Linked DNA regions of Homo sapiens: region 1 is linked to region 2. The links come from fine-mapping of genetic effects on gene expression. A gene starts in region 2. The other region holds a variant in brackets. All regions are shown on one strand. Distances are from middle to middle. Region 1 has its middle 23 kb from the start of SLC4A1. Region 2 holds the start of SLC4A1 (solute carrier family 4 member 1 (Diego blood group)).

Evidence for each region. PIP is the estimated chance that this variant, and not a neighbour inherited with it, causes the effect.
Region 1: its variant is the best candidate, but not a certain one, in a credible set for the expression of SLC4A1 in whole blood (INTERVAL, PIP 0.84).

The regions. Positions count from the first base shown.
Region 1 is chr17:44,243,207-44,247,574 of GRCh38, forward strand. No RefSeq gene overlaps it. Among named protein-coding and RNA genes, the nearest start is that of SLC4A1, 23 kb to the right of the region's middle. The variant G/A (reference allele first, on the strand shown) is at 2,802.
Region 2 is chr17:44,265,952-44,270,335 of GRCh38, forward strand. It overlaps SLC4A1 (solute carrier family 4 member 1 (Diego blood group)), which reads right to left and starts at 2,184. Exons shown (of 20, transcript NM_000342.4): 1 at 2,103-2,184.

The sequences.
Region 1 (4,368 bases), 23 kb before region 2:
ACACACACGTGACAAACCAAGTGTAAAGGTACATTTTGAGACAATTTAGATATGTTGGTTATGGATTAGATATGAGATGATATGAAGGTATTACTGCTAATTTTGTTGGGTGTGATAGCATTGTGGTTAGGTTCAATGATGGGGGCATGCATAGCTAAAGAATATAGGGGTGAGGCCGGGTGCGGTGGCTAATGCCTGTAATCCAGCCCTTCGGGAGGCCGAGGTGGGTGGATCACAAGGTCAGGAGATCGAGACCATCCTGGCTAACACGGTGAAACCCTGTCTCTACTAAAAATACAAAAAATTAGCTGGGCGTGGTGGTGAGCGCCTGTAGTCCCAGCTACTCGGGAGGCTGAGGCAGGAGAATGGTGTGAACCTGGGAGGCAGAGCTTGCAGTGAGCCAAGATCATGCCACTGTACTCCAGCCTGGGCAACAGAGCGAGACTGTCTCCAAAAAAAAAAAAAAAAAAAAAAAAAAACAATATAGGGGTGAAATGGCATCAAGTATGGGATTTAAAGTATTTCAGCAAAGGATAAAAAGAGGAAGATAAAGCAAATGTATTATTTTCGGCAAAGATTTAAGCAAGATTTCAAGGCGTAATTTTGATAATTTTTGTTTTTATTTTATCATTATTATTATTATTATTATTTTTGACAGAGTCTCACTCTGTCGCCCAGGATGGAGTGCAGTGGTGCCATCTTGGCTCACTTGCCTCCTGGGTTCAAGGGATTCTCCTGCCTCAGCCTCCCGAGTAGCTGGGATTACGGGCACATGCAACCACACCCAACTAATTTTTTTTTTTTTTTTTTGAGACAGAGTCTTGCTCTGTCGCCCAGGCCAGAGTGCAATGGCACGATCTCGGCTCACTGCAACCTCTGACTCCCGGGTTCAAGCGATTCTCCTGCCTCAGCCTCCCGAGTAGCTGGGACTACAGGCACGTGCCACCACACCCAGCTAATTTTTGTATTTTTAGTAGAGGTGGGGTTTCACCATGCTGGCCAGATGGTCTTGATCTCTTGACCTTGTGATCCGCCTGCCTCGGCCTCCCAAAGTGCTGGGATTACAGGCGTGAGCCACCGTGCCCCGCCTAATTTTTGTGTTTTTTAGTAGAGACGGGGTTTTGCCAGTTTGGCCAGGCTGGTCTTGAATTCCTGACCTCAAGTGATCCTCCCGCCTCAGCCTCCCAAAGTGCTGGGATTACAGTGTGAGCCACCGCGCCCGACCTATTTTAGTATTATTTTTTAAGAGAATAAGTTTGGCTCTGTTGTCCAGGCTGGCATGCAGTGGCATGATCTTAGCCTTGAACTCCTGGGCTCAAGCGATCCTCCCCCCTCAACCTCCCACAGTGCTGGGATTACAGACATTAGCCACCATGCCCAGCTGATAATTTCTGAATTTGACAAATGAGTATATTGGGATTCATTCTCTACTTTTGTGTATAAAAATTTTCATAATAAAATTTAAAACAACAACAGTGACACATATTTTCAAGAACCCATTCATATAAAAAGAAACAAATTAAACAAGTTAGAATGGTTGCTGTGGAGGGGGAAGAACATAGGAGTAGGGAATGAAGACAAAAGAGAAGGAGCAGGCCGGGTGTGGTGGCTCACTCCTGTAATCCAGGCACTTTGGGAGAACGAGGCAGGAGGATCACTTGAGGTAAGTCAGGAGTTCGAGACCAGCCTAGGCAACATGGTGAAAACCCATCTGTACTAAAAAATGCAAAAATTAGCCCGGCATGGTGGCAGGCGCCTGTGATCCCAGTTTCTCAGGAGGCTGAGGCAGGAGAATCACTTAAACCCAGGAGGCAGAGGTTGCAGTGAGCCAAGATCATGCCACTGCACTCCAGCCTGGGTGATAGAGCAAGACTCTGTCTCAAAAAAAAAAAAAAAAAAAAAAAAGAAAGAGGGCTGGGCACGGTGGCTCATGCCTGTAATCCCAGCACTTTGGGAGGCCGAGGTGGGCAGATCACGAGGTCAGGAGATCAAGACCATCTGGCTAACACGGTAAAACCCCGTCTCTACTAAAAATACAAAAAATTAGCCGGGTGTGGGTGCGGGTGCCTGTAGTCCCAGCTACTCAGGAGGCTGAGGCAGGAGAATGGCATGAATCTGGGAAGTGGAGCTTGCAGTGAGCTGAGACCGTGCCACTGCACTCCAGCCTGGGCAGCAGAGCGAGACTCCGTCTCAAAAAAAAAAAAAAAAAAAGGATGAAGAAAAGAAGAAATGAGAAAAGAAGGAACGGAAACAAGAACAGTTGATGATAACCTGCCCTGACCTCAGGAGGATGACTAATTTAACCCTCTGCACCTAAAGTCCACAAGAAGGAGAAAAATAAAATGATATCTCCTATAACTCTACCATGGTGGCATTTTAACTTTCTGTCTAAGCCTCGAACCCTCACTCCTGTGCACCCTACTGTATGTTTCTATGTGGCTGTCACCATGAGGAACACATCACTATGAATTTTTGCCTGCGAAAATGCAGCACTGGGCCGGGACTTCTGGATATATGATATCATTTTATCCTCTTAACAACATTGTGAGGTGAGTATCATTATCTCTATTTTACAGATGCCTTTAACCTCAGAGATCAGGCTATTCAGCCAACTCCTACTACTAATAAATCACAAAGCTGGCACTTTGGGAGGCCAAGGTGGGATGATTGCTTGAGGCCAGGAATTCAAAACCAGCCTAGGCAACATAATGAGACCTCATCTATACAAAACAAAATGAAAAAACAAATCACAAAGCTGGTATTCCAAACACCTTGGCCTCAAAGGCCCAGGGTCATGTGAT[G/A]CCATTAAGTTGATCCAATAGCTTCCTCATAATTATTAAGGTCTGCCTAGTGGTCCATTCTATTGATGGAGGGTAATTTACTGTAATTTACTAACTGCTGTCCTATTTCTGAGTATTTGGGCTCTTTCTAGCTTTCTGCTCACATAGATAGTCCTCTAAATTATCTTCAGGCCCAGAGCTTTTTGAGTCTGTTGAATTACTTCCTTATCAGGGTGGGGTTCCTTTGTGTTCACACACAAATGTTGACCTCATTACAGTAGTTCATTCTCGTTGACATGGTTTTCACAAAAGAGTTGAATGGACAAGCAGGAGTTAAAACCCAGAGACTGGCCAGGTGCGGTGCCTCACGCCTGTAATCCCAGCACCGTGGGAGGCCCAGGCGGATGGATCACGTGAGGTCAGGAGTTCCGGACCAGCCTGGCCAACATGGTGAAACCCCGTCTCTAATAAAAGTACAAAAATTAACCACGGTGGTGGCTTGAGCCTGTAATCCCAGCTACTCGGGAGGCTGAGGCAGGAGAATCTCTTGAACCCAGGAGGTGGAGGTTGCAGTGAGCTGAGATCGTGCCGCTGCACTCCAGCCTGGGCCACAAGAGTGAAACACCGTCTCAAAAAAAAAAAAAAAAAAAAGAAAACTCCCCAAAAAACCCAGAGACTGTGTGTGTGTGTGTGTGTGTGTGTGTGTGTGTGTGTCTGTGTGTCTGTGTGTTGGGGGATGGGGGATCATGTGAGGTACAGGAAGTTGGGGTAGTGTGAGGCCTCCGGCCAGGCAGGAAGTCAGTCTGGGGGGATTCCTGTGTCCCCCACATTTCCCTAATGCCTTCCTGGCCCAAGCTGTTTGGGGTCTGAGGTGCAACAAGGGGAATTAGGCAGGCTGTGGTCCAGCCACTCTCTCTTTGCCCTGATACCCCGCCCCTACCCCAGGCCCCCTCTACTCCCTCAAGAAGGCCTCCGAATCTTCTCTAAGGGTGGGAGGAGTGGGATGGATGAGCAGAAACCTGAAGTCTGCACACCCTCGCTCTGCTCCCTGGCTCTCTGTTCTTAAGGCCCAGCTTCCCGTGCTGGACATCACCTGGGGATCTGGTTAAAATGCAGATTCTTATTTCTCAACTCTGGGGCAGGGCCTGAGCTCCTAGATTACTGGCAAGCTCCCTAGAAATGGCACTGCTGCTGGTCCCAGAGCCCCACTGTGTAGCAATGCCCTAGGGATTCTGGCCAGGGTCCCAGCCTCCCCTGCTGCCCAAGCTCCAGGTAGTGTTTCAGAATTGCAATTAAAAACATGGAGAGGGGCTTAACCCTTGGCAGGGGCAGGAAGTGGTCCCCCAAATTGAGGCAGCATTTATTCCCCTAAGTCCAGATATGATGAGCTGGAAAAGGATGGAAAGGATCCTTTTCCAGGCGATGGAAAGGATCTACCAGGAAGAATTAGCCCAGTAGAAAACGGAGACCCAGAGAGGGGACTGGCTTTTCCCAGGTTGCACAGCCAGCCTGTGGAAGAGGCCTGGGGATGCCGGTGGCCTGAGCTCTCTTCAGGCTTGTCTCATAGCCTGACTTCTGGGTACATGGA
Region 2 (4,384 bases):
CCTGGGCAACAGAGCGAGACTCCGTCTCAAAAAAAAAAAAAAAAGAAAGAAAGGGATGTGCAAACAGCCTTCTTTCTGAGGAATGGGTGACCCTGCAGTCCTGGGGGTAGGGAGGGGATTACTGGATCTCACCAGACTGGAGAATGGGAGAGACCCCTGCCTTGGCAGGTGGGGCAAGTGATGGGGTGCGGGGGAGGGGTCCTGGACCTGAGGACGAGGTAGTCCCTACTGCAGGGCTTGGCTTTGCTCCTGAGGACCCTGATGACCCACCTCTTCTCTCTCTTTTTCCTCCTCCCTCTCTGCTTCTCCCAAAGTTCCTCTTTCTCTTCCATCTTTATTCACTTTCTTCCTTCTCTGGACTTGCCCATGCACTTTCTTAGGCCTCAGATGCTAAGGCCTCCAGGGTGTCTAAGCCTTAGGTACTAAAAGTCCCACCCATGGGGCTGGGACTGTGGCCTTGGTTGCCTATCTGAGGAGTGGAATGGTCAGAGGGGCCCTCAGAGCTGCAGAATCCAGAGGTCCAGGCTGCCTCTCTGCCACTGACTGGCTGAAGGGCCTTGGGCAGCTTCCAGCCTGTAGGCCTCAGTCACCCCATCTGTACAATGGGAGTGCCTTCCTGCCAGGGTTCTGAGACATCAGTGAGAGAGAAGAGGGGAAAACAGAGGTGCCTTGAGCTCAGTTGGAGACTTACAGGGCGCACCCATGACCCAGATTGCCACCCGCCAGCCAGGCCGCCCCCCAGCTGCAGGCCTTGTGCTGCCTAGCACTGATAAGGGCCTGGACCCAGATCGCTGCCCCAAGTTTTGGAAGTGCACCAAACACCTGGCCAGCTAGCCAGCTGGCCAGGGCCAGGCCAGATAAGGGTGAGCGGGACATCTGAGCCTAGAAGGTATAGCACAGCTGGGAAGACACGGCGGGAGAGGGGATTGACCAGATGACAGGGACAACTTCCTAGTGGTATGGCACCACCTTTGTGTAATCAGCCCGAACTGCACAAAGAACTGTACTGCCTTAACTCTTAGAATCCCCAAAGCATTCTGTGAAGTGGTTTGGGGATTCTAAGAGGAAGAAGAGTAATGTCATTAATCCATTCTACAGATGCGAAAGCTGAGGTTCAGAGACATTTACCTGCTTCAGCCACCCAGCAGGTAGGTATCAGAGCCAGGTTACAGCCTGGACTACCTGACTCCAGCCACATCCCTAAGCACTATGCTAAGTTGCCTCCAACAAAACAACTGTTAGCTGGTTTAGAGTTAGTTGTTAAGATCACGGACTCTGCAGTCGGACTGCCTGGATTCAAAGCCCAGCCCTGCCATTTACTAACGGCGTGTGACTTCAACTCTCTGTGCCTCAGTTTTCTCATCTGTAAAATGGGGGTGATGATAATGATGCCCATCTCATAGACCTGTTGTAAGCATTAAGGAAATTTACATTTGTAAGGGGCTTAGAACAGTGCCTAGCATATAAGGAGCGCTATGAAAATGTTTGCTGTCATTATCCCTTGCTGCTGGGGTTACAGTCAGACTTGCCATCTTCATTTCCCCTCTGATTTGCCCTCAGTTCCCATGGAATTAGCCTGAGCTAAGTGTTTTGAGATTCTCATGTGGTAGGAGGCTCTGCAGTTCCCTCCAATACTGACCACGCTGGGCGTGGAGCCAGGTGCCCCAGGTAGACCCCTGGAAGTGTCCCAAAGGGGATACTGTGTCAGCTGACATCCTGCCTCCTAGGTGGGAGAGGGGGTGGTCTGAGGACCCCATTAGGAAGGAAGGAGTCTGGGGTGGACAAGACCTGACCCTGTGGGATCCAACAAGCTGACAAGGGCCCATACCTGGAGGGGATCAGATACCCCCCGCAACACACGCACCGGAGCCACACATACCTCTGCTGCCATTGACCACCTGCCACCCTCCTCTTTTCAGGTGCCAATGGGCCTGTTCCCTTAGGGGCAACATATGCATGGTAACATTCTCACCCCACCCACCTGCACCCCCTTGGAGGTCAGGAGCCTGGCCCACCTGGGCATAGATTCAGGCTGGGCACCTGTAGAAGCCCTCAGGGCAGGCACCGAAGGACCATCCCCAGCCCCTCCCTGCCCTGCCCACCTGCTCACGAGCCTCAGGGTCCCTTGGTGAAGTCCTGCAGCCGCTGGTGCCCTCTGCGACCAGCTACGTTCCCACTCGTTCTGACAGCACCAGCGCCCCAGGGGCAGCTCGCAAACCCCTGACTCATGCCCCCGCCTCCTAATCTGCCCGCCCCACTGGCCCTGGGAGCCCCTTCCCACACCCCCCACCCCGCTCCCACTGGGTGCCCAGTAAACAGAGTTATCTCTTACCCACATCTGGACAGCTGTGAGTCTGGCCCACCCCACCCGCCTGGCCAGCCCCCAAGGCCTCTCGGGGCCCTCCTGGTCCCCATGGTTCTCCTGACTCTTCCTTTGTGGATGAAGGTTTGATCGCTCTGTCCTCAGGGCTCCCAGTGCCCTGGCAGGAAGGCACCAGCCTCCAGAGGTCCCTGTCCTGCCTCTGTCCATCCTCCACTCTGGCCAGGCCCTTCTGCTCTGGCCCCAAGGTGCAAGGGCGCCTGCTCCTCTCGTCTCTCTTGGTATCCACGCTAGGACTCACTCCTCCTCTGCAGTTTTCTCCACAGGGAACTGCTCAGCACTCACGGGGCACGGACAGCCCCCTCCCCTCCTTGATCCAGACTAGGATGCCCCAGCCACATTCTCCCCAAGACCCTGGCTGGTTCTAAAGAGCTGGCTCCTGGACACTAAGACACTGACATTCAGTCAACCTGAAACAATGTCAGCTCAACAAAACAACCATCCCCACACCAAGCTCTTCAACTCACAAAGCTCTAATGTCTGGGCATACTGGCTCCTCTGTAGGCAGCCTGGCTCAGGCCCCCAGGCCAGAACAGCCGCATTCTCAGCCCCTGCCATGCCCCTCCCCTTCAGTTCCCACCCCTACACCCCCAGTTTCTCTGCTCTGGGGGGTGACCAGAGCCTGGTCACCTCTTCGTAGGCTCTGGTTGCTAAAGAGGCAGAGACTGAAAGATGAGTACAGATCAGCAAGAATGAAGAGGGGTTTTCAAGCAGACAGAAAGGGGTGTTGTGGCCATCGCTCTGGGCACAGAGAGGAGGGTGTCCTAGTACAGCTCCGGCATGGACTGGCTGAAGGAACCTGGACAAGTCCCTGGCCCTCTCTGGGCTTCTGTTTTCTCATCCGTAAAGTGAGAGTGTTGGGTTATGTGGCCACCAGCCTGAAGTTCAGACTCAAGCAGAAGAAACTCAAACACAGGGACACACAGGTGGACAAATCCCGCCACTGCAAGACCATTCACTATCTGCACCACAAGCCTGCCAGGGGCTGAGTCCTGTGGAGAGAGAAAAGGGGAGGGACACGGGTCCTGAGGCAGAATCCTGTTTATGGAGGACCTCGGTTCCAGGAATTATGCTGAGGCCTTCATCTTGTGGTCACGCTGGATTCCTACAAACCCCCCACTTCACAGAGGAGGAAACAAAGCCACAGAGAGGCTTTCCCAGGAAAAAGAATGCCCAACGGACCAGCACCTGCCCCGTGCAGTGCACCATGCCTGGACTTCACACGCTCTAGCTTGCCAAGCTCTCTAAGCCCATCTGAGGACAACACTGTTTACGATGTTTATTCACCTCTCACAGAGAAAGGGCAGCAAAAGGAGAGCAGTGACTTGCCCAAGTCCTCTGGGCTGGTGAAGCCAGCGTGGGCACTCCGACCTGCTAATCTGCCTGGACAGCTGGTGTTCTGCCAGATCTGAGCCCCTCCCACCACCCAGGCCTTGGTGCCGGTCAGGAACAGAGAGAGGCCCTGGCTAAAGGGGGCTGGAGGTGCCTTCTCCTGCTCCAGCTGGTGGGATCTGTCCCAAACCCTGGGCCCACACTGGGTTGGCTTCCTATGGCCTGTGGCAGTGAGTGCCAAGTGAAGACCTTTGACTCCTTGACCCAGCCAGTGTGCCCAGTCCCCTTGCCCCTCTGCCTGCCCTAGGAGTCAGAGACAGCTGAGTGCAGGGGGCAGCAATGGGGCACCTCTCCTGGGGCCCGGGAAGGACTGACAGCTGGCTGGGGGTGGAACAACAAATGGCATCATCTGGCTTAGGGGGAAAATCTGGCCAGCTGTTTGGCTGTTCTGCAGGCACCACCCCCTGGCAGCCCCACCAGACAGCCAGGCAGAGGCACAGCAGCTTGGACGCTGGTTCTTTCCACTCACACCACATGTTCTAGATCATTCTTGTTGCCCTGGCTGAATGTAGATGTTTCTTTTCTAACTCTGCCCAATGTCACATTTAATCTTTTTTTTTTTTTTTTTTTTTTTTTTTTTGAGGCGGTGTTTCGCTCTTGTTGACCAGGCTA